Linked DNA regions of Homo sapiens: regions 2, 3 and 4 are each linked to region 1. Evidence: fine-mapped expression QTL. A gene starts in region 1. Each other region holds a variant in brackets. All regions are shown on one strand. Distances are between the middles of the regions.

Region 1 (8,203 bases):
GGAGTTCAAGACCAGCCTGGCCAACATGGTGAAACCCCGTCTCTACTAAAAATACAAAAAATTAGCTAGGCGTGGTGGTGGGTGCCTGTAGTCCCAGCTACTCGGGAGGCTGAGGCAGGAGAATCGCTTGAACCTGGGAGGCGGAGGTTGCAGTGAGCCGAGATTGCACGATTGTACTCCAGCCTGGGTAGTAAGAGCGAAACTCCATCTCAGAAAAACAAAAAACAAAAACAAAAAAGCAAAACAACCCTTGGCTCCTCAAGCATGTGAGCTCAGGCAGGGCCAGCCCAGCCTTAACTGTGGAGGCTGGTGGGACAGTCCCATGGGGAAGCCCACTGCTGCGCCGCTTGGAGGAGGAAACCCAGCATGTGAGGCTGCTCATTGTCACGTGGTTTGCTGTGCTCTGCAGAAGGAGATTCTGTGTTCACACCCAGGATGTCATGGAAGAGGAGCTCATCCCATTCATCTCCCTGGCACAGGGTAGACACTTGGGGGATGCTGCATTAAGTGAAGTGAACCTGACTCTGTTTCTTTAGCCCCAGCCCACCCGAGTCTCAATCTTCCCATCTGTCAAGAGAAATAATAAGATTATTTGCCTCTAAACAGGTGGCTGAGATCATAGATAGTGCAAATGATGTCACTGTTGGACTCTCCGGTGTTATATAAATTTAAGACATGAACAATAAAGAAACTACCGATATTTACTGCTCAGACATGCCCACGTTAAGATTTTAATGGCTAAAAGGCAGTTGTTTTTCCATCTGACATTATGTTATTCAACAGAGTAAGTAGTCTAAGTTGGAGGAATCCCCTTGGGAATTGACTACAAAGAGCAAATAAAAAAGAGTAACAGATCCAAGACCCTTACCCCTTAAATTTATTTTCACTTCCTAAATTGAACTTCATGCAAAATAGGTTATTTATCACTAGGGTAAAATAAGATAATGGGGAGGTTTAATTAGCCAAAGCCCTGTGATAACGCGTTTCTTCCTTACCAAATACCCAATGAGAATGCATATCATTAATTCTGTGGTTAGCTAATAAGAAAATGAAAAAAGCTCCCTTAATTTTTCCTTGAAAAAATTTTTAAACTAACACAAAGATGCCAATGAATGAGTATTTTGCTTACATCCATTCACTCCATCCAACTCTCATTCAAATGCTCATTGTGCACCTGCTAAGGTCAGGTGCGTGCTTTCTGCCAAGCATTCCAAGAGGAACGTCACATAGTCTTTGCCCTCAGGAAGCGTACGGTCTGGTTGGGAAAGAGATGCTTCCAACAATAATTCTGATACCTGTGTGATATGGTTTGGCTGTGTCCCCACCCAAATCTCATCCTGAATCCTACTCCCATAATTCCCACGTGTTGTGGGATGGAACTGGTGAGAGATAATTGAATCACGAGCGCGGTTTCTCCCATACTGTTCTTGTGCTAGTGAATAAATCTCACGAGATCTGATGGTTTTATAAACGAGAAGCCCTTTTCGCTTGACCCTCATTATAGCTCATGCCGCAGCCAGGTAAGAAGTGCCTTTCGCCTTCCGCCTTCCGCCATGACTGTTAGGCCTCCCTAGCCACGTGGAACTTTAAGTCCATTAAACGTCTTTCTTTTATAAATTGCCCAGTCTTGGGTATGTCTTTATCAGCAGCGCGAAAACAGATTACTAACACACTGTGGTAAAGGTGAAATCAGTGCTCACTCCTTCGGGTGAATTCCGTCACATAATCTCCACTGGGGAAGGGGTGGGCATGGGCAGCTCCTGGGAGCTGATGTCTTAGGGGCCCTAACACAAAAGTTCATGCAGTTCAGCATCCCTTCCCCTCCCATGCCCCACAGGGCACAAACGCATTGTTGTCCATCACCAAAACACATTACCCTTAGTACTCGACTCTAATGAAGTTCCAGTTCCTCAGTTGTATAACGAGGCTTCCAAGCTCCTATTTTAAAAGAAAGTTTCTTGAAGCTAAATAAAAGCACTGCTAACATGAAATTAACAGTGGAAATTTTTGAGTGTAATTTCAGGGTGAAAAAAACTGAAAAGACAAATGTAGATTTTAGATATTTCAAGGAAGGAGAGAGAGTAGTGTTGCTGGTACCATGCCTCTGCACTTGCTATAGCTGAGTTTCATTTGAGTATCCATTATTTGGAAGGAGTTCTTAAATCTAAGCCTGTGGAAGACAATAAATTCACATTAATTATCTCTCCATTTGACTCAATTTCTGAAGAAGTTCTATCCTTCTGATGAACTATCAGATTAAATCCCAGATTCCTCAGTATGATGTCCCTGAATACCAATATAAAGAATAAAGGAAGAGATCAAAACCTGGATGAATAATCTGTATAAACATGGGCATATACACAAGGTATGACTATAATATTGAGACTCATCCTATAAAGCACCTACAAAAGTTGATTGTATTATTTTATACTTATGCTTGTGCACATAAAAAATATTTGGCAGGCTAAAGGCCAAAGAACCAGGCACTGTTCTCAAAAGGACATAGCAGATTAACTACACCTCTATTTGTCCTTCTATACTCAAGGCTACTTACTGTAGTTGGGTTGACCAGGCAGAGTTTAAATCAATATATGTTGGTTGAGCCTGGATCTTAGATGAGAAATTCACACTAACGTGAAATTCACACAGACATATGTGGAAACACTAAAAACATTTTCTTTTACTTCATCCACCAGTGACTTTAATGAAAGCAGAGCATAATAATTAATACAAGTAATTAGAGTTGACAACTGAAGTGTCAAGAAAACCACAGTTCATCTGTTATCCGTCCATCTCTGTTGAAATATTAGTTTACTGCCATATATTAATCTATTTATAAAGAGATCCAGACAATTAGAAAAATTAGTCTGGAATCACCAGGCTGAAGGCTTAGCTGAAGTTAAAAGACAAGTAAAAATGCCTCCAAACTGTAAAACCTGAGTTGGGGAATAAATGGTAAAATGTGTAAAAATTTAGAAAAAGGTTATATGTGGACTGTAAAAAATACACTGGACTCACAGGTAATTAAGGGGTGAATCAGAGTTGTTTCCTAAATGGCATAAGCCAAACTCTTAGATATTTCTACCATTAGCTAAAAGGCAGAGAAGCACTCTCTCTCTCTATTAATGCACTTTTAAAAATGAAAATTGTGAAGTGTTCTGCCCTTAAAGTGGACCTTTATTTCAGGTCTGCATTACTTTGCTTAATAGATATGGTCCTAAAGATTAAGGTGGTGATCCATTTTATCTTGTAAAAATGCATAATTTAATCTGAGTTATAGGAATTTAAAGCTGCCCTACTTTGAAGGCCTTTGTGACTCAAAGATTTTTTTAATTTAATTTTTAAATTGAGAATTACCTGGCTTGGGCTTTTGGTCTTTTTATAATACGTATTGCTGTCTACTTTTTTTTTTATTCTTGGCTGCCTCAAGCTATTCTTGCCTCCAAAAGGTGTCAGCATATGAATAAAAACAGCAGAAAATAATTACCCTAATTAGGTCAATGTATTAAGCTGTTTCTACAACTGTTTCTCTTAAACACCTTATCTTTGTAGTCTTGGCTCATTAGAAATTCGACTAGTGGTAAGTATTTATTTTTTTCCTTCAAGGGGGTTTTTGCTTTGCTAAGCCTCGGGCATTTGGTTCGTGCAAGAAATCACAGAAACTGCTCCAGCGGACTCCGAAAGGAGCGGAAAATTCTTTTGTTTGGGGGCCATGAGGGGTGGGGGAGGGGTGGGGATTCTGGTGTAAGCTTTTGGCTTGCATTCGCTTTCTCCCTCCGAAAGTGGGCGACATCAAGCAAGTCCCAGTTACAGAAAGAACCCACTGCAGGGCGTCCAGTCACTTGCCCAGTGAAAAGACTGTAATCAGACAACTTTAATAAAGGGAGAGCAGGAGAGTGGTGACGAATTTCCACATTCCGAACAAGCTTGTCGAAAGAGGAGTGCAGGGAAGGAGCAAGAATGAGGCACTGGAAGACGGTGAGCGGGGCCTTGCCACAGAATCCCGGGCCCACCTGCTTTCTCACAGTCGCGACAGCCGGCCCGGAGAAGGGCAGCCCAGCGAAGGGCACGCCCCGCGCGGGTGCCAGGGAGGCCGGCAGGGGCGTCCGCGGTCGCTGCTCACCTGCGCTCCCCGCTGCCCGGCCCAGCCCGCCTCGCCACCGAGTCTGGAAGCCCACACTCACCCCTTTACCCGGGAAACGCGGCCGGAGCCGGCGGCGGGTCGGGAGTCCGAGATGGTAGATCCCCCTCCAGGCGCCTCGCTGACATTTTGTCCCGGACGGAAAACCTCCGCGCGTGCCCCTTAAAGACACAGCGCTGCATTCACACGTCTGCGGGGAAAGGGGGGCCGTCACGTGTGGCCTTCGCCCGAAAGCGGTAGGGGAGTCGCTCTGAAACCGCCAAGGATCGCGAGCGACAGATTTGTGTTGGCCAGGGTTTTAAGATGACGCAATAGCTGAGTGTGGTTGAAATGTAACTATTGTTTTACAACTTTGCATTAACCTTCCAAGACCTGAATTCCCGGGCCTGAGTCTCAGAGCGCGGTTTGCATCTTTGCAGGCTGTAGGCGCATGATGTCACAAGTTATTGGAAGAAATCCCTCCAACCTAGGTTGGGACAGATGAAGGCGGCGCTTATTGGTGTTCACCAAAACACCAGCATGGTGTACCAGCTTTGGCTAGATGATGCTCAGGTAACGAACAACCCCTGCAACTCAGTGGCTTAAAGGTCCATTTCTCAAGCGAATTACTGTGGCTGCAGGGAGCTTTGGCAGTACTCCACCAGTTTTCTTCACTCCAGGCTGAAAGGTCAACTTTTCTGGGCCATGCTCCCTGCTGGGCTGGTAAACCAACTTTGAGGGAGAAGGGGGAAGTCCAGATATGTAGTGTTTGCTATTTCTATGATGTAAATGCTCCCACAATGGCCGATTTCAAGCTACAAACAGTCCAACAAGTGGCTTGCCAAGTTCCTGGAAATTTAACAATTAGCTCCTGTACATGACTGGCACAAGCTGCTTTCCAAACTCACATTCCGCATGCCTCAGTTCTGCTCACTTTCTATTGGTCAAAACTTGCTGTCAGTGGGTGGGGAAGTGTACCCCTCTCTTAAGGAAGCCTTGCAAGTCTTGTGACAATGAAACAGGAGAGTTCCCTGATTTCCTCCCGGCCCCCGCCCTCCCACAGCCCTTTGCAGGACGTGCAACAGGGTTGTGGCTCGTGTGTTCGGTCTCTGCCTGCTGAAACCCCTTATGGGAGGTGGAGCATGCAGACGGACGGGTGCAGGAGCCAGGGTGCAAAAGCTGGGGCGCTGGGCTTCCAGCCCCACGGCAGTGTCCAGGGGCAGGATCCCGTGATTCCCGGAGCCCAAATGGGCGTGTGTTACAGTGTGCTCTTTTAGCCTTACCATCAGCTGACGGCTTAAGTGTTAACCAGCTCAATAGACCCTCTGCCTTTTTGCAAGCGCAGAGGGTCAGTGTGACAGTTTCTGTATCTCAGCTCTTGTCTCACCTCCCAGAAGAATCAGGTCACACATGGACTTGAAGGATGGTGAGTGCCGGGGTGGGGGCGGGGGTAGAGGAGTTGGGGGAAGGTTGGGGGTGTTTATTAGGTGGTAGGGGTGGCACTCAGTAGGATGGATGGGGAGCTGGAAAGGGGGTGGAGTAGGGAGATGATCTTCCCCTGGAGTTTAACCGTCCAGCGGTGGATTCTCTAACTGTCCCCAGCTGAACTCCACCCAATATTCCTTCTCTTTTCTCTTTATCTGCGGCTCTTCTGCTCTTCTGCTCTTCTGTTCATCTGCTCATCTTTTGCTGCTGGAGCCTGGTGTCTGGAGTTTATACGGGTACAGGATAGGGGGTCATGGAGGGCCAAAAGGTAACTTTTGGGCACAAGAACGGGAATGCCTCTCTTCATTTAGGGCCATGGGTTTCCAGGCTTGAGGGTGGGGCCTTTGCCAGGGAACGGCCTTATTCTACCCAGTAGTTCCCTGTCTACTGTCCCTATCAACAATAAGTGAGCTGAATAATATCCTTAAAAGAAGAACAAGAAATAACTGGGTACAATAATACAATCCACCATTCCAATAATGGTTTTGGAGGAAGAAACTGGTTGGGTATCTTCAAAGGCAGAGGTCCCCAACCCCGGGCCATGAACCAGTACCCTTTGTACCCTGTTAGGAACCTGGTGGCACAGCAGGAGTTGAGTAAGGGGCAAGCAAATGAGGGAAGCTTCATCTGTATTTACATCCGCTCCCCATGACTAGCATTGCCGCCTGAGCTCCACCTCCTGTCACATCAGCTGGGGCATTAGATTCTCATAGGAGCACAATTGTGAACTGTGCACATTCAAGGGATCTAGGTTGTGTGCCCCTTGTGAGAATCTAATGCCTGATGATCTGTCACTATCTCCTGTCACCCCCAGACGGGCCTGTCTAATTGCAGGAAAACAAACTCAGGGCTCCCACTGATTCTACATTACGGTGAGTTGTATAACTATTTCATTATATATTACAATGTAATAATAATAGAAATAAAGTGCACAATAAATATGATGCGCTTGAATCATCCCAAACCTATTCCCCACCCCTGTCCATGGAAAAATTGTCTTCCACGAAACCAGTCCCTGGTGCCAAAAAGGTTGGGGATTGCTGTTCAAAGGGATAATTTTGCAATGTGAAGGCCAACTATTAGGTTACTACTTTTCTTCTGGCCCAAAGGACACTTACAGCTACGGACATCTGATAAAAAGAAAAGTAATGAGTACACTGTTGGTGGGAATGTATAGCCATACACCCATTATGGAAAACAGTATGGCGGCTTCTCAGAAAACTAAAGATAGAACTATCATATGATCCATCAATTCCACCACTGGTTATTTATCCAAAGGAAAGGAAATCAGTGTATCAAAGGGATTCTTGTACTCCCGTTTATAGCCACACTATTCACAATAGCCAAGATACAAAATCAACCAAAGTCTATCAACAGATCAGTAAAGAAAATATGATATATATACACAATGGAACACTATTCAGCCATAAAAAAGAATGAAATCCTGTCATTTGCAGCAACATGCAGGGAACTAGAGGCCATCTTGTTAAGTGAAATAAATCAGACACAGAAAGGCAAAAATCACATGTTCACACTCATATGTGGGAGCTAAAGAAGTTGATCTCATGGAGGTAGAGAGCAGAAGGGTGTAGAGGTGGGGGAGTGAAGACAGGTTGGTGAATGGGTACAAGCAAACAGATAAGATGGAATAAGTTCTAGTTTTTGATAACACGGAAGGGTGACTGTATTTCCAAAGAGAAGATTTTTTTCTTTTTTTCTTTTTTTTGAGACGGAGTCTTGCTCTGTCGCCCAGGCTGGAGTGCAGTGGCACGATCTCGGCTCACTGCAAGCTCCGCCTCCCGGGAGCTTGTGTGGAGCTAGTGTTTTTATTCATGCCATTCTCCTGCCTCAGCCTTCTGAGTAGCTGGGACTAAGGGAACTACAGGCGCCCGCCACCACACCCATTAATTTTTTTGTATTTTTAGTAGAGACGGGGTTTCACTGTGTTAGCCAGTATGGTCTCGATCTCCTGACCTTGTGATACACCCGCCTCAACCTCCCAAAGTGCTGGGATTACAGGCGTGAGCCACCGCACCCAGCCGAAGAGAAGATTTTTTTTCTATGAGTTTGACTTTAATTTCTAAGATTCCACATATATATGAGATCATGCAGTATTTGTCTTTCTGTGTCTGGCTTATTTCACTTAGCATACTCTTCTCTAAGACATCCATGTTGTTGCAAATGGTAAGAGTTCCTTTTTCTTTAAGGCTGAATAATATCCGTGTGTGTGTGTGTGTGTATGTGTGAATACACACCACAGTTTCTTTTTTTATTCATCAGTTGATGGACACTTAGATTGTTACCATATCTTTTGGCTTCTGTAAATAATGCTGCAATTAACATGGGACTGCAGATACTTCTTGGAGATAGTATTTTTATTTCTTTTGGAAATATACCCAATAGTAGTATTAGTGGATCATATGGTAGTTCTATTTTTAATTTTTTGAGGAACCTCTCTATACTATTTTCAATAATGGCTGCACCAATTGACATTTCCACCAATAGGGTACAAGCATCCCCATTTCTCTAATCTTCACCAATACTTGCTGTCTTTTGACTTTTTGATAATAGTCATCCTAACAGGTGTGAGGTGATGTC
Region 2 (8,203 bases), 20 kb before region 1:
CTCCTGTTATGAAAACAATCAAATTCTTTTTATGGTTATTAATGTTTAACCTGCTTGTTCACTTACTTAGATAAGGATAGGACAGTGGGTTTAAACATATCCATTGCCTTTATTTCTGGTTAGGGTGGAATGACATACTCTGCAGCATCTAAATGAAATTTGGTGATTGCTAGTTAAGGAGCACTCTATTTTCTGTAAAGTAGGCTGTACTTATTGACAAGGCAAGACAACATAGAAAAATGAATGTAAGTTCCATGTATAAAGGTATATATATTCCTGTATGTATTTGATGCATCTGACAGGTTTTTCTTTTGCATCAATCTTTAATAAATCAAAAAATTGTAGAGTCCTAAGTTGGACACAGCAGATTTCAATGTGTTTAGACTCTAAAATAAGTCCTCTGCTCAACTTTTGGTAACAGATCCAGCTTCAGCTTCGGCGAACACATGCAGGCTTGGGGACAGGCAAACCATCCTCATTTGAAGATGTTCACCTTCTCCAAAACAAGAACAAAAAAAACTGGGACAAAGCACGAGAGCGGTTTACTGAAAACTTCCCAGAAACTAAGCCTCAAAAAGATGACCCAGGGACCATGCCTTGGGTAAAAGGGACTTTAGAGTGAAGGCTAATCATAGAAAAAAAACCTCTAGTTTTTTTAAAAATAGAATTTGGAAACTTATTTTTTCTCCCCAAAAGAATCAGCAGCACAGGGGAACTATGTCACAGTTTACCTCTTCCTGATTCAGAAATGTGTATGGTTTGCAGCTTTTAAAAACCATTTTTTTAAAACTAATAAATAGTGACTGAACCAATTTATGCAGTAAATAGACTAAAGTTCACAGGGCACGGATGAGTTTATCAAACTTCGTTATTTTATCTTGTCATTTACAACATCCATATAAGCAACTAGCCATATAAGCAAAATTCATAGAACTACTAATGACTTAAGTGTACATCTGTTCTTGTCTCCATATATTCATGTAAGATGCACAACAAAAGAAACATCAGAAGTTTATAAAAATAAATCTGACTATATGCATCCTCATTTATTCCCTTTAGAACCTAGGTAAAAAATGTTGCGAAAACATGGGTAGTGGCGCATACATTTTGTTATCCTTGAAATAGCCTAAGTAATGTTATTGAAGAACTAATGAACAGGTAACATATTGTAGAAAATTAGTCTTTCATTGTTTTCTTCTGTGAAGAATCTGTTGCTATGTACTGTATATTCAGCATTTATATTTGGTTTGTTTCATAGCTAATGAGGTATTTAGATATGAACAACTGAATACATATTGAAATAGTGTGCTGGCTTTTGTAGTTTTGATAAAGACCATTGCAGGCAATGGAATTGTGCCAGAGAAATCTGATTTCTAGTACAAAAGGAATACTTAGCCAGGGCCTCAAGCTCAAGATACTTATTGAAAACATCCTCAATTGCAATAAAAACATTATAACATGAAAAAGAGTGATTTTTTGAACCGGTGATTTAAATGTATTGATCTGCTTTGAATTTTCAAGCAGCCAGAATTTTCTAGTTTAAATTGGCAGAGTTATAACAAAGGAGAGCCTCAAATATTAGACAATTGCAGTGCGGCTTTCTGGGCACAGGTGTCACTGCTCTGCCACCTATCACTATTCTTTTTCTGTTCAGTTTTTCTCTCAGGTGTTTGCTGGGAAATTAACACTGGAACTGACCCTTTTCTGGCAGTGAATGTAAGCTCTAGCTCCCCCATCTACTATAAAGAAATGTCTTCGAGATGTAGAAATAAGGAATATTCTGAAAATAAAAATTATACAGTAGTAAAGATAATTCAGAAAGAAAAAGCTACCTGTTAGAATTTCCAGTCTAAATGGCACAGGGTAGTTACGGAGAAAAGGGGATGGAGAAGGAGAAACTATGACTAAAGATGAGAGGTATGAACGAGTTGTCAGGTTCCTATGGGCTTAAGCTAGGACAATCAGGCCCTAAACTCCAAATTTGGATAAAATATCTCTTTGCATTCTTCTTGGCCACCTGCATAGTCTGACACATACGTATGTACAGTTAGACTTGCAGGCTGCAGGAGTGCCCTGCATTGTTTTCTTTTAATTAGAAATAAAAAGTATTAGTCTAAATGTGGTTCTGGTGCTGGTGCCCTGTATATATGTAACAATATAGGACCCCTCCAAATAGGTTTTGCTTCTGGTGAATCTTGGTCATTGGGTTAGTATATGACTGTCTATAATATTTTCCATTTGTATTATTATATTGGGGAAAACATTTTTTATCATTTTCTATTAAGAAAATGGAAAACTTAAATATGGTGTTAAAAATGGAAATATATGTGATATTTGCATTATTAAACCCCTTTGCAGATCTAAAGTCTCAGGGTTCCACTATTAGTGGTTAAAGTACTGAATAATGTCTGGGTCTATTTCCATCTGTAAAATAAGAATATTTGTCTCACGTGTCTGTCATGAATAGCAAATGAGAAAATGTATATAAAAGCACTTTGTAAATTGTAAAAGTAGTACAGATGTGAGCTTCTATTTGTTTAGAAGCATAAATGTGAATTATATACAGTTTGAATTTTGCATAAATTTTTTGTGTCTAATTTTAAATATTTGTTTAATCACACTACACATTTTCTGAGTAGCGTTTAAGTATGTATTTTAAGTGGAGCTGCAAGTTCTGAATTTTAAGAAATCTAACATCTAATATTTTTGCCAGAACATAAGCTGGCAAAGTTGAGAACAGAAGAAACTTTCAACATTAGAGTAAAATAGAAATTTTTTCCAGTATTAAATAGAGGAAGCACCCTTATCCTCAAAAAGAGGAACTTTTTTCTGCTTTTGAAACAAGTGTTACTTCTGATGTGTCATTTTTATCCTGCATTTATAGAACGTAATGGTTTACGCAAATCAAAAACCTTCTGACTTTCCATAGAATATTTTTAATTTTTTATGATTTTTATTTATTTATTTTTTTGAGACAGAATCTTGCTCTGTTGCCCAGACTAGAATGCAGTGGTGCAATCTCAGCTCACTGCAACCTCAACCTCCTGGGTTCAAGCGATTTTCGTGCCTCAGCCTCCCAAGTAGCTGGATTACAGGTGCATGCCAACATGCCTGGCTAATGTTTGTATTTTTAGTAGAGATGGGGTTTCACCATGTTGGCCAGGCTGGACTCCAACTCCTGACCTCAGGTGATCTGCCTGCCTCAGCCTCCCAAAGTGCTGGGATTACAGGCGTGCGTGAGCCACCATGCCTGTCCAAAAGATTATTTCTTAATTTGACATATTTTTAAAGAGCAGGCAAAGAAGATAGAAATCTCAAACAAGGGAAAGCAAGAGACGTTGGAGATTGCATACGAAGGCCATTCTGTAAAGTTGCAGGACAGAGGGATGTCCTTGGCAGGGGGCAAGAAAGCACTTGTGGACCCAAAACTCAAAGGCAGTCTCAGGAACAGTTGAAAGTATTTTCCCCACCATCTTGTTGTAAGTGTGCTTCTTTTATTAGGGCATAACTTATATTTCTGCTCTGAATCTTTGATTCAAACATTTCATTTTACTTTTTCAGCCTTTAAAGTGGAAATGGATTTTGATTCTTTAAAATGAGGCAGTGGTTACTTATATTTCTGTGTGTTTCAGGGCCCAGGCTATCTCTTCTGCTTTTCTGTTTTACTAATCTTAGTGTTGGCTTATGGCCTTGTAGTTGCAAAATGGCTTTTGAAATTTCAGACATCATATTCATACCTAAAGCAAGAAGAAAGAAGAAAGAGCAGAGTGTAGTGTTAGTTCTCTTTTTTTAGGAAAACAACAGCTTACTCAGAAACTGACTTCTTAGGGTCATTAGCCAGAACCAGATAGCATGGCTACCCATAGAAGAGATGCTATAAAAGTGGGTAACAAGATGGTCACATTTGGCTTAAGCCAGTCATGAACCATCACCTGCAGCTGAGAATGTTGCCGTTGGAATGAAATAGGTTCAGTGAACCAAGCAGAAGGGGGCAGTGGATGTTGAATGGGCAGGTAGAGGTAACTGCCAGATAACGTACTTGTCCATCAGTGGGGACTACAGGGTTGCTTAAATTGTGATGCATCCCTACTATGTAATACTTTCTGGCCATTGAAATGAATAAGATAGAACTGTGTATACCCTAGTGTAGAAGAATATCTCACAAAGCAGATTGTAGCAAAGTATATATGGCATAATCCCATTTTTATTTTTAAATTACAAAGGTGTGTATTGAGTTGCTGATAACCCAGAGTGAGCAGACTTTCACATTTTATTATTTCTATATTTGAACTTTTAAAAAGTAAACAGGTGTGTGGTTAATGTGTATGTATATACACACTTGTGGTAAGAATTTACCCAGAAGTGGTTAAATTTGTGGTTAAGCCTTCATGGCTCAAACCCAGGCATTTTTCTCACATATATACCCAGTTTCACTTACCATCTATAAACTCATGACTTCTAGGCTGTCTTAGGTTATTGATTCTGAGCTTATGACTTACATATCCATCTCAGAGTCACTTTAAATGCAACTCCAAGACTAACTCCATAATCTTCTCCAAACCTAGTCTCTTCTAGTTTACTCTCTCCAGCTGGTAACACCATCCATCCAGTTGTGTGAG[T/C]CAGAAGCCTGAGTCAGCCTCTGTTTCACAACCACTAGCTTTTCTCCCCTTTGTCTGTTTCCAATATATTAAATCAGTTCACTGTTACCAGTCACCAAAATTATTCTGAGGGCTTCCTAACTGGTCTTCCTGCAGGCATTCTTTCCTCCATCTTCCACACTGCAGACAACTTCCATCTCATCGTCTCCTGTTTGGCTTCCCATTACTTTGAGGCCATAAAACAAACTCCAGGCCCATAAAACCCTAAGGGATCTGGCCACTGCCAGCTTTCCTGGTCTCATCTTTTGTCACTTTCCTACTTGTTCTCTGGGCCCTAGCATGCTGGCCCCTTTTTCAGTTTGTCAAACACAGCTGCCTTCTCTCATCACAGAGCCTCTTAACATTGTATTACATGTATGGAATGCTCTTCCTCCCCCATTTTACATAGTTAATTCTCACATAGTCTTCAGGTCTCTGCTGATTGAATCTTCAGGGATGCCTCCTTTGAAGCCCTGGACTAGATTAATTGCCTTTGATAAGTATTTTGAAAAACCATTTCTTTCATTTAGACCACTTAGCTTGGTTCACAGTTACATATTAGTGTGGTTAGTGTAATATTTCTCAGTTTCTCTAGATTGTTAAGTGCCATGTGAGCAGGACCTTGGGTATGCTTACTATTGCATCCGTAGAGCCTAGCACCACATCTGGTTTATACAACCATAGGCACTGAAGCACACAATGGGTAACTGCAAGTGGCTTGATGGAGTCTTATCAAGCTGTGACTGAAGAAACATGGGAACTGAGGCTACATAGAGGATCTACAACAATGGCTTTCAAACTATTTTGATGATGATCTACAATGTGAATACAATTTGTATTACAGTTCAGTACACGAGCATGTTCATAGCATATGTAACATAGATTTTGTATACCAGTACTTTGCCATAAGCTCATGTAATACACTCGTTTTCCACATCACTGATTGCATCCACTAAATTGCTTTCATAATGCACTAATGGGCTGTGTCCTACAATCAGATTTTCAAACCTTTTCAAAGAACCCATTGCATTGCCTTAGGAGCTGCAGCTGTGTGAGTCTATGTTTGTGTGATGAGGTGGGGAGAGTTTAGGATGCCAAACTGTGGTGACTCCAGTTCTCAGGCTCATTAACTACAATAGGTCTACATTCATCTGATTTGCAGTTCAAGCTTCCAGATAGGTTTGATTGCATAACAAAGAAGGGGTGAACAAAACCGAGCCTCTTACCTGTAGCCAAAACCGCATATTGTGTTGAGAAATTTACATAATTAAGAAATGAAGGATTTTATCTGTGAGACAATGAGGAATCCACTGAAGGATTTTAAGCAGGAAAGGAACCTCATTAGATTGCTTTATAGCAGAATAACTATGGTTGATTGAAAGGCAGAGTGGTGACTGGAAATCTTGAGTGTAGGTTGACCTCTTTGAGAGTTTGTTCAAATATTTATTGAGCATCCACCAAATGCTGTGCACATCTTGGAAGGCAGGAACCTTCTTTGTCTTATTCACTGCTCTGTCTTCAGCACCTAGCACAGGATTGGATGTTTGGGAGGTCCTCAATAAGCATTTGTTGGTGGAATGGATGGAATGCACATTTGTGTTGCATCTGGCACTGTGCTAGGCCCTTAACATACATTCTTTATTCTGGACACCATTTTATGAATTAGAAAACTGAGGCTTAAGAGGTTTTTATTTTGCTCAAAGTCAAAAAGCCGGTGTGACAGAAGTGGCAGGGCTGAGGTTTCTATCTTGATTCTTTCCATCCCACAGGGATGATTAAGAGCACAGGCTGAAGAGTCTGACTGAGCTGAGTTTAAATTAAAATTCTACCACTTCCAAGCTGAGTGACCTTTAAAAATTTATTTGAACCTCTCTACCCAAGTGTCTTCTATGGAGTTTGTAACTGCCCATCGGGTTCGCCTTGCCTGCTGCCCAGATAAAGCCGATTTATCAAGACAGGGGAATTGCAATAGAGAAAGAGTTTAATTCATGCAGAGCTGGCTAAGTGGGAGATGAGTTTTATTACTCAAATTGGTCTCCCTGAAAATGTGGAGACTGGGTTTTTTTTTTAAGGATAATTTGGCAGATGGGGGCTAGGATAGTGGGGAGTACTGATGGGTTTGGTCGGAGTTGAAATCATAGGGGGTCAAAGTGGGTTCTTCTTGCTGTCTTCTGTTCCTGGGTGAGCCAGGACTGGTTGAGCCAGATTATCAGTCTGGGTGGCTCCAGCTGGTGCATCAGAATGCAGGGTCTGAAAGATATCTCAACCACCAATCTTAGGTTTTACAATAGTGATTTTATCCCTAGGAGCAATTGGAGAGGTTCAAATCTTATGGCCTCTGGTTGCATAACTCCTAAACAATAATTTCTAATCTTGAGGCTAATTTGTTAGTCTTACAAAGGCAGTCTGGTCCCCAAGCAAGAAGGGGGTTTATTTCAAGAAAGGGTTGTTATCATCTTTGTTTTAAAGTTAAAATATAAACTAAGTTCCTCTAAAAGTTAGTTTGGTCTTTGCCGAGGAATGAACAAGGACAGCGTGGAGGATAGAAGCAAGACGGAGTCAGTTAGGTCAAATCTCTTTCACTGTCATAATTTTTGCAAAGGTGGTTTCAAGTTTTGGTGAAGATTAAATGAGATAAGGTTTGTGTGGCACTGAGCACACTGTCTGGTGCATAATAAGCCTCCAAATATTAGTGATTATTAGCATTGTTATTATCCATGCTAGCAATACCAAGGACATGGTTGTAGGAGTAGAATCCCAGAGTAGAGATGGTGGTTATGGAAGTCAGGTAGGATGAGGAATGAGGCTAGCAAGTAGTGGATGGGTCATCCTCATTCCACAAGGCAATAGGAGATAGATGTGGACAAGAAGACTGAGTCAGGAGCTGGCTTTCTAAGTGAATATTGGAGAATGAGGAGGAGATTGGTAGACAATAGTGAGAAAGGACAGAAGTTATTGTAGGTGACTCTCATCATCCTTAAAGGAGGAGGAATGGATTCTACATGACTTTGGAAATGGAGTCGTCTGGAGGAATGATAGGGAGATGTAGCCAGGCAACCCTGGCTCTCAGTACTCTATGGGAGCATGAGAGCTACAGGGAGAATTCCAAGAAGTAGATTTCCGGTCCCCATATGTAAAAATCTTTCAACAGCATACATTAATTCAGCAAATAGCCATGAAGCACGTAGCATAGGCCAGGCACTGTTCTAGGCACTAGGGATACAACAGTGAATAAAACAGTCAAGGCTCCCTGCCTTCATGGAGCTTACATTTATTTTTAGATAGGATTTGGCAGAATGTAAGGCCCAAGTAATACATGCAGGCCTTGATAGTTCCAGAGAGTATTAATCCAAAATAGTTTCTGTTCATTCCAAAGTCTTAAAGCCAACATTTTAAAGCAAAAATTTGGGTGGAGTGTGTGACGCGGGAAGGATTTGGGGCTTTTTTCTTAATGTTCTCAGACTGTTTCTAAACCAGATCTATTTAGGGGAATCTTATAAACTGTGCTTTCAAAATCTTTTTAGTCATGTGTTTGAGAGTTCTGGGTATGTAGACAACAGACCTCA
Region 3 (8,203 bases), 56 kb before region 1:
AACAGCAAGGAAATAGCTCATTATATTCATAATGGCAAAAAGTACAAAAAATGGTTCATATCATTTATTGGAGAGGATGTGGGAAAAAAACATTACAAAACAAAATCAAATCGTGAAGGGTGTCAAGTAGAATGCTTTTTTAGGGCAGCGCCTCTGCCCACTATGCTAAGTACCTCTTAGATCTGAAAACTAGGTGTGGCAAAGACTGCTATTTACATACTCAACATGAATTTTGCCCTTCTTCCTTACTTGTAGAACCCCTATATTATTAGGAGAATAATGCGTCTAGCTTAGAAAAACACACATATACACATAATTCCCAGCCCCACTTGCAGCAAGGGGTGGCTATTGATAGGTAGACAGGAACCATTGAGTGGGGCTTTGGGAAAGTCCTTTCATCCCTTGCCATCTTGCACCATGGATCGACCTGGAGGCTCTGGAAACATGCTCCGAGAATAGCAGAGCAGAAAGACATACCGAGCCTGGGTCCCTGAAGAACTGTGGAGTCACTGGCCATGGACTGCCCCTCTCTAGGCTTCTGTAATGTAACAGGATAACACCCTAATTTGTTTAATAAGCCACTATAGACCACCTCTGATACTAGCACCTTAATGCAATTCCTGATATTCAAGGCTTTTTCTAAAAAAATGTCATTCTTTTCTAATGGTCAGAGGTAGGATACAGACTGGTATTACAAGGTAAAGATAACTTAGCCTTGAACAGATTAAGACAAATAAGAGGAGCACTGCTTCAAGTAGCAGTCAATAAGCTTATTTATTTTTTCTCCAGTTAATTACTAAAAACTGAAATATCATCTTAAAGATACCTTTCAAATGGTATTTATGGAATTTCTTATCCCCTAAAGAAAATAGGTGGAGAAAGTAGAAAATAGCATCTTTTTAAAAGGACTTCAATATGTTCATTAATGGAGTCATAATGCATCAAGGGAAGTCAGAAATTTTTTGCAATACATCTTTTTTTTTGCATCACAGGGGACATACCATGTCTTCTCACTAAACTTCCTTTGATGGCTTAAGGTTACTCTTGACATGACAATAAGGTAGAATCTCTATGTTTCCAGATACAGTGCCTTGTGAAGAACTCTTCAGGCCTAAGGAGGAATGTGTACAGGCCCTAGAGAGGGCAGGTCTCTGCTGGAAAGCTCACTGTTTATGAATAATCTAGTGGGCAGTGCACAAGACAAAAATACATACAGAGCCATATTTTAAAATTTAGATTTTATTATTATTTATGTATGGTGAGGCCAACAGATCAGGAGATGGTCTGCTATCAAAAAGACAGTTTATTATTCACCCAGCCCAAGAGGAGGATGCACACCAAGCCACACAAGGCAATGTGGAGAAGCACCAAGGTCCAAAGGAGGCAGAAGGAGTGGGAGGAAACATGGCAAAAAACATTATGTGATTTTTGCAGGAAGGAATGGACAAATCAGGATAAGCAGGTTTAGTTTGCATAATTTCAGTGGGATCTGAGATGTAGGAGTTGTTCCTAGTTGTCTGGTACTTTGCCCTGGAGTGATTAGGGCAGGGGAATATTGGCATGGAGTGTAACAGCCTGATAAAGAAGGTAGATGATCAGTGTGTGGCATGCTGGGTGAGTTGTTTGCTATGTCTAGGAATTAGCTAACCCTTGGAGGGGTTATCTCCCTGGTCAGGGAGACCCCAGATGCCAGAGCATCAAGAATACAAAAAATAAGAAAATATAGTTAATGGAAGTGGCCACTGATCTAAGACACCAAACAGGATTCTCTTGTTCAGCTGTGTTCAGCATTTACGGATACTGCTCTGCGACAGGCACTGTGCTGGGCCCTGAGAGAGGAGCATCTGCATGACACAGCTGCTGACCTCCACAAATCTCAGGCCCAGGACTCTGAGCTCATGATCTAATTCTAAATGACTTTGGCAAAGGAAGGAAGTGTGTTCCAAAGAAGGCCACATCAGTTTAAATATTGGCAAACCAATGCCAGGGTCATGCAGACAAAAGACCAAATAAATGCACCAAACCAGAGCATTTTTCTCCCCTTTTCCACAGAATATTGTCTCTCTCTTATTTTCCCACCAGGGATGCTCCTTTTTGCGACTCAGACCTAATGTACTTGCTCTATTTTCCCGGGGGGTCTAAACTCAGGAACCAGAAGAATGACTAAATGAGAAATAAAAGTAAAATTCTGAGCCCCTGAACTGACTGAATAGACCCATTGTTCACTACATAGAAAGCCAGTCATTGAGACAAGGAGTATTGCCAGGGAAGAAGGTTCTATTTGGGTGCTGCAGCCAAGGAGAATAGGAAATCAGTCTCAAATCCATCTCCTCAACCAACTAAAATTAGAGGTTTATATGGCAAGGGAGAAATGTGACTACATGTGAGAAAACAGGAATTAGTGAGCGGTAAGGATGAGGACTTGTTCAACAGGCAGCAGGTGGCTGGTTAGGCAATCATGATGGGTGAGGGGTATGGTGCCTCATTGTCCAGATGCAGTGATCTGGTAAGTTTCAATTCCTTGATACTATCTGGGAGGCCTCATGGTTGGTTTCCCAAGAAAGGAACTCAGATAAGAAAGATGTAACTTTCTGAAGTTTTAAGACTGGGAGGGTAAATTTCCAGGTTTATTCAAAAGAAACCATAAACATCAGTTCTATAGGACAGTTGGGCTGATTTCACACCAACCAGCATTCCTTCCTGATAAGAGACCACCAACCACAGAGAAGTTCTGGCCAATCTACCAGGGACTCACAGCGAGGGTTTTCATGTCCTCTGCTTTGCCATTTGACATCAGAGGGCTGAAAACTTCACACTGGGATCATGCTAACACCACCATTTTTTGAATATGGGTCCCATAGAGAGGCAGGAAGCTTAATTGTGCATGTGCATATTTCTCCTTTCATAAATATTCATGAATCCTCCTACAGCTCATTGAATATATTTGGCCACCCTGCTCAGCATAAATTTCTGTTCCCTTTGTCCTTCCTTCCAAGTGTCTGTTCTCAGCTTCTGACCAGAGGCTATGCTTCCAAGCCTGTCAGAAAGGCCACCCTGCAGGCTGTAACCCTTCATGAGAAATAAAGCCCTTTTCTAAATTTATTAACCTCCTCATTCTTCAGTTGACATAAGTAGAGCATCATAGTCCCCACAAATCATTTCTGGGATACTCTGTTCTTATTTGTAAAACAAGGAGATAGGAAATGCATGCTATACTAAAAGTTTGTTCAAAGAACATCCGCACGTGCAAATGTCTGAGACCAGAGGCTGCAAGCCTCCCTGTCGCTCTTAGGGCTTCGGTAGCCACATTGCCACAGCTCTCCACGCCCTCAGGTAACGCCCCTCCGCAGGCCGAGACGTCGGCACGTACACTGTCAGGTCTTCCCGCTTTCCGTCGCTTCCTGTTCCGTCTTGGTCCCGCCTGCCGCTGGCGCCGTTGTTTCCGGCTCAACTGGGGAGCTGCTGGAGCTCTTCTGGCCTCTGGTTTTCCGACTGCTTATCCGACGCTCCTCCCTCTGTCTCTGTAGCTGGAGAAGGTAGTTTCCAGGAAAGTTTTCCGGTTTGCAGGCCGCGCACATCGGGCAGGGGCCATCCTCGGTCCCCTTGCTCGTTGCTCGCAGCCCCGTTCGGCTACAAGTGAGTTTCAGGGCGTCATGGCCAGGGGCCACCGCGGCCAGCCGGGTGTGAGGCTGCCTTTCGCTGCCCGCGCGCTCCAGTGGTCTCTGGGTCCGCCGGCGTCCGTTTCGGCCTGAACGCAGCCCCTCCGCGGCGACGAGCAGTCTCGCGCCGGAGCTCATGGCCTCGGAGGCGCCGTCCCCGCCGCGGTCGCCGCCGCCGCCCACCTCCCCCGAGCCTGAGCTGGCCCAGCTAAGGCGGAAGGTGGAGAAGTTGGAACGTGAACTGCGGAGCTGCAAGCGGCAGGTGCGGGAGATCGAGAAGCTGCTGCATCACACAGAACGGCTGTACCAGAACGCAGAAAGCAACAACCAGGAGCTCCGCACGCAGGTGCGCGGTCCTCCTCAGCCCCGCGCCCCATCCAGCCCAGGCGAGGCCTTCGAAGCCCGTGATAGCCTCGGAAGGGGTCCCTGGCAGGGGCTCAGAACTACTGTAGAGTACTTAAAGTAAATAAGTAGAAGCTCAGCGCAGT[T/TA]ACAATTCCAAGTACCTTAGGAGCAAACCTGAGTTCAGGTTACTTGATTTAAATCAATGTCTCGCGGCTGGCGTGAATTGAACTTAAGTACTGTGGCTACATTGTCTTCATTCTCACTTGACCTAACATCCCATTGGCAGTAGGCGCATTTACTGTAGATCACATTTGAGTTTATTAAAATGCTGGACTTGAGTCAGAATCCCATCTCTGCTATTCACTGGGTGTGTGAACTTATATACCGAGTCTCAGTTCCCCATTAAATGAGAATGATAGCTCACAGTAGTAAAGGTGAAGTAAAACAAACAATTTTACAAACTTTTGAATGCTATACCTGTTTAAGGTTGCTCTTCTGGGCGTTTATCATCTTCGGCTTTCTTGTGTAAGTAGGGACGATATATAACTGCTTTTGTTGGAGACGTTAAGCAGCTTATTTCGTTTCCAAGATGGTAGGGGCAAATGTTAATACTTAAACTGTCACATTAAAAACAACCTTGGCTGGACGCGGTAGCTCACGCCTGTAATCCCAGCACTTTGGGAGGCCGAGGCGGGCAGATCACCAGGTCAGGAGTTCGAGAGCAGTCTGGCCAGCATGGTGAAATACAAAATTTAGCCGGGCGTCTCTACTAAATACAAAAATTAGCCGGGCGTGGCGGCGGGCACCTGGAATCGCAGCTAGTCGGGAGGCTGAGGCAGGAGAATTGCTTGAACCTAGGTGGTGGAGGTTGCAGTGAGCCGAGATCGTGCCACTGCACTCCAGCCAGGGCGACAGAGTGCAACTCTGTCTCAAAATAAAAACCAAAAAACCAAGAGCATAGTATTTTTTTCTACCTTGTTGGCAGGCCCTCTCTGCCAACAGATTATTTCCACATAGTAACTAGTTTCAATTTGACCGTTGTCTAGTCCTTCATAATTTATTGGTGGTTTCCTAAAACCAGTATATAGGCTGAACACTGAAACGTCATCAGACTTCTTTGTTTTGTTACCAAATGGACTATGAAAATAACTGTTGAGTTGCAATGACTTTGTATGACCATTACATGGAGTTCCTGACATGACATTATTGGAAAGTTTTTGTTTAGTCAATTTAAACACCTACGGTGTGTAATAACTATGCTAGGAAAATACAAATATGGTAAAAAAAAAAAAAAAAAAAAAACAGGGAGAGGTGGCTGGGCGCGGTGGCTCACGCCTGTAATCCTAGCACTTTGGGAGGCCGAGGCGGGCGAATCACGAGGTCAGAAGATCGAGACCATCCTGGCTAACACAGTAAAACCCTGTCTCTAGTAAAAATACAAAAAAAATTAGCCGAGCGTGGTGGCGGGCGCCTGTAGTCCCAGCTACAGGCTGAGGCAGGAGAATGGCGTGAACCCGGGAGGCGGAGCTTGCAGTGAGCCGAGATTGCGCCACTGCACTCCAGCCTGGGCGACAAAGCAAGACTCCGTCTCAAAAAAAAAAAAAAAAAAAAAAATGGGGAGACGGGAGCAAAATATAACAGCCTTTTTTACATGACAGCCTTTTGAAAAGCTCCTTTATAATTCTAAATTGTTGAAGTACTGCTTGCGTTAGAGATTCTAAAAGAAAACGTTTTTTGCTAATCTTCAGAGAGCCAGCATTTTGGTGTTACTGTTAATTTGATAAATCAGACTAAATGATGGGACTTTGTGAACAGATCCTTTATTTCTTACAGAAAAGAATGTTTTTATGCTAATATTTTGAGAGGTCAGCAATTCTCCCTAAAGAATTAGAAAATTTAAGAGCTATCAATTCCCATTCATGTTATCTAATATCATTCAATGTTCACGTGGATTTAGTTATTAAATGTTAATGCCTCTTATAAGCTTTAATACACTTTAAAAAAATAGTAGTTCTGTGACTAAACTGCAGCAGAAGCGAACAGAAGGTAATTGCCTGAGAGGATCATCTGTCCTCCACATGCCTCCATTTTAGTCCAATATTAAAAATTTAATCTCATAGAAAGTCTTGACTCTACTTTGAATAGTGATAACTCCTTACTCTCCTAGTCAGCCTCCCTTGGTTGGGGAGAGGGTGGATTCGATTAACTGTCATTCCAAATTACTGAATGTGTTTTATTTGGAGCAGTTAAAAAGTTTTGCTTGAGAATGATAACTGGAGAACCATAATATGTATAGGGTTTGTACAAGACCCCAAAATAGCCTTGTGCAAATTACTTTGTCTTGTCTGATATTTTATGTGTAAAATTGGGGTTAGGACAACGAATATTTCAGGTGGTTTTGTGAATTAATGAGATGTTATCTAAAGCATCAAGTATAGTGCCCAGCATGTAGTAGATACTAAGTAATCTAATTCATAGTGATAGGGACAGTAGCCAGAGCCAGGATTTAGGGCAAGGCAATCAGGCTCCTAGGGCGAGGAATTTAATGGGGCACTAATTCCCAGCGATGAACTCTGTACTTGCATGAATCAGAGGAGCGCCTCAGATTTTTCACGATCAGTGTCTTGCTTCCCTCACTGTAGTTCCTGCCCTAGTATTAGCAACAGATCAGTTTTATCACCTTTCTCTGTTTAAGCTTTATGTATCATTAAATAAATATTTAAAAGCTTGTTTTTTAGTTGGTTTCTTGTGTGTAGTAGACATTGTCTCACATTGAGGTCCTCTCAGGCTGAGGTGTATTGACTGAGGCAGCGTATTGACCGAGGCAGCATGTTACTTGCTTTTGGGCACTTCCACACACTTGTTTCTCTCTGTCCTATGTAGTAGCATCCTTTTAAGGGTATTTTAGTGTGTGAAGTACATGGAGGACAGATGCCCCTCTCAGGCCGTCACCTTCCCTGTTCTCTTCTGCTACAGTTACTTAATTATAGGACTACTGTTTAATGAAAAAATGTATTAAAGCTTGTAAGTGGCATTAACATATTCAGGTGGATAGTTAATTCCCAGTGGAGAATACCAAATGAGTATTAGATAATCCAGTAGGGATGAGAATTTGTAAATTTTGAATTTTTGAATTCTTTAGAACTGACTTTAAAATGTTAACATAAAAGCATTCTTATTTGTTAGAAATAAAGGACCTTGTTCACAAAGTCTCATTATTTAGTTCGATTTTTGGAGGAGATATTTGGACATTTAGTAAGAGAGATTAGGAATAAAAATGCCTTTTAAATGTATAAAGTAAAATAATAATTTTAGCTTTTCTGAAAGGGAAACTTGCTGCTCTTGACATTTCTCTAAAACAATTATTTGTAACGGTAGGAGACTGGTATATATATTATTAGATTGTTACATGATTTCTTTTTCCTAAAGCCTTGTTTTCTCTCAGGTGGAAGAACTCAGTAAAATACTCCAACGTGGGAGAAATGAAGATAATAAAAAGTCTGATGTAGAAGTACAAACAGAGAACCATGCTCCTTGGTCAATCTCAGGTATTTAGCTTATAGTGAGGATATGCTAACACTGTTACATTCAAATCATGCTAATGTTGCGTTTTCTTTTAATTTAAAATAAACAAAGATCAAGGTAAATGAGAATTGTTAATACTGTTGACGTCTCTCCATATGATAATGGTATTTTCGGATAATCAATTTGTTCTTCTGGAGGAAAAAGTAGAAATGTATTGTCATTCCTGTGATTTCTATAATGTTGCTAATGTTTTCAGTGGCACACTCACTGAGTAATTTTTGGCAGGCAGTTAGCCATCTACTTCCATATCTGCCTTCCTTGTGACCAGGGGCATTTGTTTTCTTGTTGATGTGTTCTAATTAGAATTATGTATAGTATCAGTCTCTCACCCTTGTGGGAATGGTGAGCCCACCACCATGGCCTTATGAATGGCATTATGTTATAAGGCAAAATAGCTGAGATACTGAGTTTTAATATATATGTGTCACAAGAAGAAATCATCTTTCCTATTAAGTTTTGCCTTGCTTCAGTCAGGACATAATTTTTGGCTAAATTGCTAAACATAGCAATAGTGCTAACTTTTCTTATCTGCATGATACGTTTTAAAAAGTCTGCATGGGGAGAGAAATTTGCCAAAAAATAAATCAATCCCTAATTCCTTGCCTTTATTTCATTAT
Region 4 (8,203 bases), 44 kb before region 1:
TGAGAAATCTAAATATTTTTTGTAAGAGATCTGCAAAATGCATGGATTAAAGACAATAAATTGCAAGTGTCAATAGTTAGAAAAATAAATTATTCTTTTTCAGGAAGTTTTAGTTGCTCAATCTCAGTACATTAAAGATGTTTCCGGGTCTGGTCTGCATGGATTTAGGATGTAAATAAAATATAGACTGTTCAATTAAATTTGGTTTTAGAGTACTGGCCAGTATATCATAAATATAGGTGATTACCTAATTTTATCTTTCTGGTTTTTAAATCTGTAATTTGCCAAATTCATTTATGCATGGTTGCTTGTAAGTCTTATTTACTATAGAACTGATTAATTAGTGGAGACAGTTTATTGATTGCATTTTATAGAATGTTATTTTTTGGTATGCATGAACTTTATTTTCAAAATTTTCTTCTCTAATTTTAAGTTATGAACATCAAAAGACAAATCTTTGTTTTATGACATTGAGAGGAGGGTTTAGGGGTTTATACTGCCACACCATTATTGTGCAGTCATTAAGAATCAGGAGTCTAGAATTGCGCTCATATGGTCAGCTTTTTCTTATGCTTGCTTTAGTTTTCATGCCTTTAAAAGTATTATCAATTTTTTTAATGTATTAAGTGGAACCATATGAAATTGCTGTTTCTTATAAGTTAAAAGTGGTCAAGTATTGACAATTTTATATGATTAAATTTAATATTTAGATTTACTTGTTTCTCACACTAGGAAAATTAGATCAGTTATTGAATGGTAAAGTATTTTGGAAGATTAAAGCATTTTTTATTGTTATCTTTAATTCATTGTCTTCTGAAAATACTATAGTTGTTCAAAGAAATATTTACCACATTTGAATGTATTTGGCATTTTCGTTAAGTTTATTTTATCTTACATGAATAGAATTTATTTTTTTCTTGACTTTCAAAGGAAAATCAACTCTATTATGATCCTTCCACTGGAATTTATTACTATTGTGATGTGGAAAGTGGTCGTTATCAGTTTCATTCTCGAGTAGATTTGCAACCTTATCCGACTTCTAGCACAAAACAAAGTAAAGATAAAAAATTGAAGAAGAAAAGAAAAGATCCAGATTCTTCTGCAACAAATGAGGAAAAGGTAATGTCTTTACAATTTTAAAAATTGACATAATGGTGATAACATGATAATTAAGACAAAATTTTTTATGAAACTGACAATCATTCAATAACTCTGCATTTCAAACATACCCATTAAGATAACCTAGGAAAGTTTAGATGGAGCAAACATGGACTTTTTCATAAACTCTGTCACTAGAAATAGAAAGCATTTCTTAAAATTTGAAGGAGATAGATTAAGGTCAGATAAAATATCTCGTATATAGTTTGGAAGAAGAATTCAGATCCTCAGTTGATAAGTTGATGTCAATGCACAGTTCATAATAAAAGATAAACACAGTTTATAGGTAGACATAGATACAGGTTCAACTTTCTTAGTTATGTGGAGCAATTTTTTACTTACTAGGACAATTTTTTTTTTTTTTTTTGAGACAGAGTTTCACTCTTGTTGCCCGGGCTGGAATGCAATGGCGTGATCTCAGCTCACCGCAACCTCCGCCTCCCAGGTTCAAGTGATTCTCCTGCCTCAGCCTCCCGAGTAGCTGGGATTACAGGCATGCACCAACACGTCTGGCTAATTTTTTTGTAATCTTAGTAGAGACGGGGCTTCTCCATGTGGTCAGGCTCGTCTCGAACTCCTGACCTCAGCTGATCCTCCTGCCTCTGCCTCCCAAAGTGCTGAGATTACAGGCATGAGCCACCGCACCCGGCCAGGAAAATATTAAAAAAAAAAAAAAAATCCATTGCTGACAACTGTGGAGTGAGATAACATATTTATTAGGATTAATAGTTTAAATGGCCTGCAAGACAATGGTTAAGAAAGCGATAGTTACATTTAATTTAAAAAAGTATTATGTAGGCTTTCAGATGGTACTTGTAAAGACTAAGGGGAACCCCAAAAATGCTTATGATGATGCAATGTTAAATTGAAAGAAGGAAAATATAAAAAGTTAACAGTGTTCTTTATTTCTACTCTCTAAACAGGTAAGTTTGGTGGTTTATAGGTTATAAAGGAGGCTTGTTTGTTTTATTGATATTTTATGAACTGTGGCAACTATTTGATATCTTACTCTTGAAATTTTATCTCATGGTTTCCTGTCCTGTCCTTTCCTGTCCTATCTCTGTCCTGTCTTGTCCTTCTGTCCTGTCCTGTTCTGTCCTTCTGTCCTGTCCTGTTCTTTTTTGAGACAGGGTCTTGCTCTGTCACCCAGGTTGAGTGCAGTGGTGCCATCATGGCTCACTGCATCCTCGACCTCCTGAGCTCAAGTGATCTGCCTACCTCAGCCTCCCAAAGTGCTGGGATTATAGGCGTGAGCCACTGTGCCAGCCAGTTTTTCTTTTCTTAACCAAAGAAAAATTACTTGATACTAAATTGTAAAGTTCACATAAGGAATTAGGATTCTGTTAGATTTTTTCTGTTCTCCTATTTGATTTGCTTCTGTTCTATTTTTTTGTGAACAATACTTAGGAATAGAAGAGTATGTGACTAAAATACTAAAAATCAGTTTTCTGTTTGCTTTCAAGATCTCTGTTTTAATGGCTTGTGCTTGTTACTAGTGGTTTGATTGTTTGAAAGGCTAGGTTGTAGGTCGGGTGTGATGGCTTATGCCTGTAATCCCAGCAATTTGGGAGGCCGAGGCAGGCGGGTTGCCTGAGGTCAGGAGTTCAAGACCAGCCTGGCCAACATGGTGAATCCCCGTCTCTACTAAAAATACAAAAATTAGCCAGGTGTGGTGGCAGATGCCTGTAATCCCAGCTGCTTGGGAGGCTGAGGCAGGAGAATCGCTTGAACCTGGGAGGCGGAGGTTGCAGTGAGCCAGGATCGCACCACCACACTGCAGCCTGGGCAACAGAGCGAGACTCCATCTCAAAAAAAAAAAAAAAAAAAAGAAGAAGGCTAGGTTGTGAAAGCACCTCTCCCTAACAATAGAAGAAGAATATGTAGGGCTCCTCAAATGGCCTTGCCTGAAAAACTAGAGAATAGACATGGAAAGCATTCTGTGATATTTTGGTCCAGCCTCGCTCCCATAACTACTCATCTTTGCCATTCTTCTTTGAAAATGTGCGAATTCCAAGACAAGAACTTTTTTT[A/T]TTTATTTATTTATTTATTTATTTATTTTTAATTTATTTTTTTATTGATAATTCTTGGGTGTTTCTCACAGAGGGGGATTTGGCAGGGTCATGGGACAATAGTGGAGGGAAGGTCAGCAGATAAACAAGTGAACAAAGGTCTCTGGTTTTCCTAGGCAGAGGACCCTGCGGCCTTCCGCAGTGTTTGTGTCCCTGGGTACTTGAGATTAGGGAGTGGTGATGACTCTTAACGAGCATGCTGCCTTCAAGCATCTGTTTAACAAAGCACATCTTGCACCACCCTTAATCCTTTTAACCCTGAGTGGACACAGCACATGTTTCAGAGAGCACAGGGTTGGGGGTAAGGTCACAGATCAACAGGATCCCAAGGCAGAGGAATTTTTCTTAGTGCAGAACAAAATGAAGTCTCCCATGTCTACTTCTTTCTACACAGACACGGCAACCATCCGATTTCTCAATCTTTTCCCCACCTTTCCCGCCTTTCTATTCCACAAAGCCGCCATTGTCATCCTGGCCCGTTCTCAATGAGCTGTTGGGCACACCTCCCAGACGGGGTGGTGGCCGGGCAGAGGGGCTCCTCACTTCCCAGTAGGGGCGGCCGGGCAGAGGCGCCCCTCACCTCCCGGACAGGGCGGCTGGCTGGGCGGGGGGGCTGACCCCCCCCACCTCCCTCCCGGACGGGGCGGCTGGCCGGGCGGGGGGCTGACCCCCCCCACCTCCCTCCCGGACGGGGCGGCTGGCCGGGCAGAGGCGCCCCTCACCTCCCGGACGGGGCGGCTGGCCGGGCGGGGGGGCTGACCCCCCCCCACCTCCCTCCCGGACGTGGCGGCTGGCCGGGCGGGGGGCTGACCCCCCCACCTCCATCCCGGACGGGGCGGCTGGCTGGGCAGAGGGGCTCCTCACTTCCCAGTAGGGGCGGCCGGGCAGAGGCGCCCCTCACCTCCCGGACGGGGCGGCTGGCCGGGCAGGGGGGCTGACCCCCCCCACCTCCCTCCCGGACGGGGCGGCTGGCCGGGCGGGGGCTGACCCCCCCACCTCCCTCCCGGGCGGGGCGGCTGGCCGGGCGGGGGGCCGACACCCCCACCTCCCTCCCGGGCGGGGCGGCTGGCCGGGCGGGGGGCCGACACCCCCACCTCCCTCCCGGGCGGGGCGGCTGGCCGGGCGGGGGGCCGACCCCCCCACCTCCCTCCCGGACGGGGCGGCTGGCCGGGCGGGGGGCCGACCCCCCCACCTCCCTCCCGGACGGGGCGGCTGGCCGGGCAGAGGGGCTCCTCACTTCCCAGTAGGGGCGGCCGGGCAGAGGCGCCCCTCACCTCCCAGACGGGGCGGCTGGCCGGGCGGAGGGCTGACCCCCCCACCTCCCTCCCGGACAGGGCGGCTGGCCGGGCGGGGGGCTGACCCCCCCACCTCCCTCCCGGACGGGGCGGCTGGCTGGGCAGAGGGGCTCCTCACTTCCCAGTAGGGGCGGCCGGGCAGAGGCGCCCCTCACCTCCCAGACGGGGCGGCTGGCCGGGCGGAGGGCTGACCCCCCCACCTCCCTCCCGGACAGGGCGGCTGGCCGGGCGGGGGTCTGACCCCCCCACCTCCCTCCCGGACGGGGCGGCTGGCCGGGCAGAGGGGCTCCTCACTTCCCAGTAGGGGCGGCCGGGCAGAGGCGCCCCTCACCTCCCAGACGGGGCGGTTGGCCGGGCGGAGGGCTGACCCCCCCACCTCCCTCCCGGACGGGGCGGCTGGCCGGGCGGGGGGCTGACCCCCCCACCTCCCTCCCGGACGGCACGGCTGGCCAGGCGGGGGGCTGACCCCCCCCCCCCCGGATGGCACGGCTGGCCGGGCGGGGGGGCTGACCCCCCACCTCCCTCCCGGATGGGGCGGCTGGCCGGGCGGGGGGCTGATCCCCCCCACCTCCCTCCCGGACGGGGTGGCTGCCGGGCGGAGACGCTCCTCACTTCCCAGATGGGGTGGCTGCCGGGCGGAGAGGCTCCTCACTTCTCAGAGTGGGCAGCTGCCGGGCGGAGGGGCTCCTCACTTCTCAGACGGGGTGGTTGCCAGGCAGAGGGTCTCCTCACTTCTCAGACGGGGCGGCCGGGCAGAGACGCTCGTCACCTCCCAGACGGGGTCTCGGCCGGGCAGAGGCGCTCCTCACATCCCAGATGGGGCGGCGGGGCAGAGGCGCTCCCCACATCTCAGACAATGGGCGGCCGGGCAGAGACGCTCCTCACTTCCTAGATGTGATGGCGGCTGGGAAGAGACGCTCCTCACTTCCTAGATGGGATGGCGGCCGGGCGGAGACGCTCCTCACTTTCCAGACTGGGCAGCCAGGCAGAGGGGCTCCTCACATCCCAGACGATGGGCGGCCAGGCAGAGACACTCCTCACTTCCCAGACAGGGTGGCGGCCGGGCAGAGGCTGCAATCTCGGCACTTTGGGAGGCCAGGGCAGGCGGCTGGGAGGTGTAGGTTGTAGTGAGCCGAGATCACGCCACTGCACTCCAGCCTGGGCACCATTGAGCACTCGACAAGAACTTTTAAGAAAAATCCTGTTGGAATTTTGAGAATTTCCTGAGGATTCTAAAAGGTACCTGTGAGGCCAAGAGAGTATCTTCATCTGTTTTCTTTATTTTTAAAGATATTTTTGAGCCTCACTTTTTGTAGGTGAAGGTTATGTGGAAGGAAGACAGTAGGGGAGATAGGAGTAAATAATTTGAAATATACATATGTGCCTCAGTGCCCATAAATAAGCCCTCCTTTCTTTTCACTTAATGACTATCTAATGTTCTGTACTGGCAAATAGCTTTCCCTGCATATGTTGTTCAGTAAGTAATAAATATACAAGATTGGAAACTGCTTTTTTAAGAGTATATACAGATAGGGAACTTTTTTGCTATAATTTTATAATGTAAAAGCTCCTCATGGTTTTTCAGCTCCTTGCCCTTGTTCTTGTTCTGGGTGAATTTGTATTGCTAGAAGTGTGTATAATTTATCACACTGTGAATGTTTAGCCAGTCTCCAAGCTGAACTTACGCTGTTATCAAAGATAGGTATGTGAGGTGGATGGATCATGAGGTCAAGAGATCGAGACCAGTCTGGCCAACATGGTGAAACCCCATCTCTACTAAAAATAAAAAAATTACCTGGGTATGGTGGTGCGCATGCCTGTAGTCCCAGCTACTCGGGAGGCTGAGGCAGTAGAATCTCTTGAACCTGGGAGGTGGAGGTTGGAGCGAGCCGAGATCGCGCCACTGCACTCCAGCCTGGGCGACAGAGCGAGACTCCGTCTCAAAAAAAAAAAAAAAGAAAGAAAGGTGTGTGAGATGCTCTCATATTTTATAAAATAACAGAAGAGCATATGAATTCGCCTCATGTTGCTCTGAGGTAGAAAGAAAAGTGAGAGTGCGTTAGAAACCAAGGGAAAAAAATGGAAAATAATTATTTACTTTTTCTAAGGCTGAAATGATAGATTTGACCATTGTATAACACGGTGACTATTGTTAATAACAATGTGTTGTATTATTGCAAACTGCTGAGAGCAAATTTTAAGTTTCTTACCACAGAAAAATAAGTATTTGAGGTAATGTACATGTTAATTAGCTCAATTTAACCACTGTACATTGTGTACGTATTTCAAAACTTCATGTTGTACATGATAAAAATACATCATTTTTGTTAATTAAAAAATGTTCATTTATTATAAGGCATATCAACTATAAATGTACAATAAATAATAAAAGACTTATGCCAGGCAAGTTAAAATTTTGGAATAAGATAGTCACAGTTAATTTGTACTTTAAACTTTTATGTATTATCAAGCTGAATCTGAAGTACTAAATTTTAGCAAAACTACAATTTTGCTACATATTGAGTACATTTGGATCTTTAAATTCATGTCATAAGTAAAGCTAATTCTGTATTTTATTTGTGTTGACTAGCTAATTGATTACCAGTTTAAAAAGAAAATTTAGAATAGGTATTCTTTAGGCCTGCACTATCCAGTAAGGTAGCCAGCAGCTCCATGTGGCTGTTGAGCACTTGAAGTTTTGCTAATCCAAACTCAAATGTGCTGTTAAGTGTAAAATACACTCTGGATGTTGCAGACTATGTAAACTATCTCATTAATAATTTTACTTTTTAAATGTGGCTACTAGAAAATGTAAAAGTACAAATATGGTTTGTGTTACATTTTTATTGGACACCATTGGTCTAGGCTATCCCATAGTCCAGGCAGTATGTGATGAGGGCCTGAACTAGGAATGTTAAGACATTGAGAATAGAGAGACAGATTTGGATATATTTTGAGAAAAGTCTGTAGCACTTCGTAATTTTATATATGGTTAAGGGGATCTCAGAGATAACTATAGGATTTTTAATTTGGATAATAAGAAGATGGTAATATCATTAACCAAGAAAGGAAATGTGAGAAGGAGAGGGGGAACAGATTGTAACCATTGTTATTTTACTGACACATATCTTCACGAATTCGTTGAAACTTGATGTAATGTTATAAGATAGTGATGTTTAAGAGTATTCTCCCCTGTTCCCTCGTATCTACCCACCCTTCTCCAGGATTTGAACTCAGAGGATCAAAAAGCCTTCAGTGTTGAACATACAAGCTGCAATGAGGAAGAAAATTTCGCAAATATGAAAAAGAAGGCCAAAATAGGCATTCATCACAAAAATAGTCCCCCCAAAGTCACTGTTCCAACTAGTGGAAATACTATAGAGTCTCCTCTTCATGAAAACATCTCTAATTCAACATCATTTAAAGATGAGAAAATCATGGAGACTGATAGTGAACCAGAGGAAGGTGAAATTACAGACTCTCAGACTGAGGATAGTTATGACGAAGCCATTACCAGTGAAGGCAATGTAACTGCAGAAGATAGTGAGGATGAAGGTGAGTAAATAATCATTATTTAAGTAAATAGCCCAGTCTGGTAACTATAAAAGAGCAAAACCATTAAAAATGTTAGTGAGTTGTAGTATATCTGCCAGAAAGTAAACATTATTTTAATGATGTTAT

Which allele goes with the higher level. Positions count from the first base shown, and alleles are read on the strand shown. Sizes are in standard deviations (SD) of each study's normalised expression. Not every link is listed here.
In carriers of allele T in region 4, the expression in monocytes of the gene that starts at base 4,359 in region 1 tends to be lower than with A alone (moderate effect, 0.50 SD a copy in Fairfax 2014).

Evidence for each region.
Region 2: its variant is fine-mapped to the expression of ZBED3 in blood mononuclear cells (TOPMed, PIP above 0.99). The same link has a PIP of 0.9 or more in monocytes and whole blood.
Region 3: its variant is fine-mapped to the expression of ZBED3 in whole blood (TOPMed, PIP above 0.99).
Region 4: its variant is fine-mapped to the expression of ZBED3 in monocytes (Fairfax 2014, PIP 0.95).

Annotation. Positions count from the first base shown.
Region 1 is chr5:77,082,927-77,091,129 of GRCh38, forward strand. It overlaps ZBED3 (zinc finger BED-type containing 3), which reads right to left and starts at 4,359. Exons shown (of 3, transcript NM_032367.4): 1 at 4,185-4,359. ZBED3-AS1 (ZBED3 antisense RNA 1) reads left to right here and starts at 3,789. Exons shown (of 3, transcript NR_182763.1): 1 at 3,789-4,693. It also overlaps a transcript of PDE8B not described here. RefSeq lists enhancers at 4,017-4,618, 4,619-5,221, 5,222-5,822 and a silencer at 4,031-4,200.
Region 2 is chr5:77,062,631-77,070,833 of GRCh38, forward strand. It overlaps AGGF1 (angiogenic factor with G-patch and FHA domains 1), which reads left to right. Exons shown (of 14, transcript NM_018046.5): 14 at 422-2,604. The coding sequence ends at 622. Among named protein-coding and RNA genes, the nearest start is that of SNORA47, 14 kb to the right of the region's middle. The variant T/C (reference allele first, on the strand shown) is at 4,620.
Region 3 is chr5:77,026,972-77,035,174 of GRCh38, forward strand. AGGF1 (angiogenic factor with G-patch and FHA domains 1) reads left to right here and starts at 3,433. Exons shown (of 14, transcript NM_018046.5): 1 at 3,433-4,005; 2 at 7,447-7,549. The coding sequence starts at 3,796. RefSeq lists enhancers at 3,091-3,670, 3,310-3,659, 3,671-4,250. The variant T/TA (reference allele first, on the strand shown) is at 4,148.
Region 4 is chr5:77,038,601-77,046,803 of GRCh38, forward strand. AGGF1 (angiogenic factor with G-patch and FHA domains 1) reads left to right here. Exons shown (of 14, transcript NM_018046.5): 5 at 931-1,119; 6 at 7,747-8,077. Among named protein-coding and RNA genes, the nearest start is that of AGGF1, 12 kb to the left of the region's middle. The variant A/T (reference allele first, on the strand shown) is at 3,189.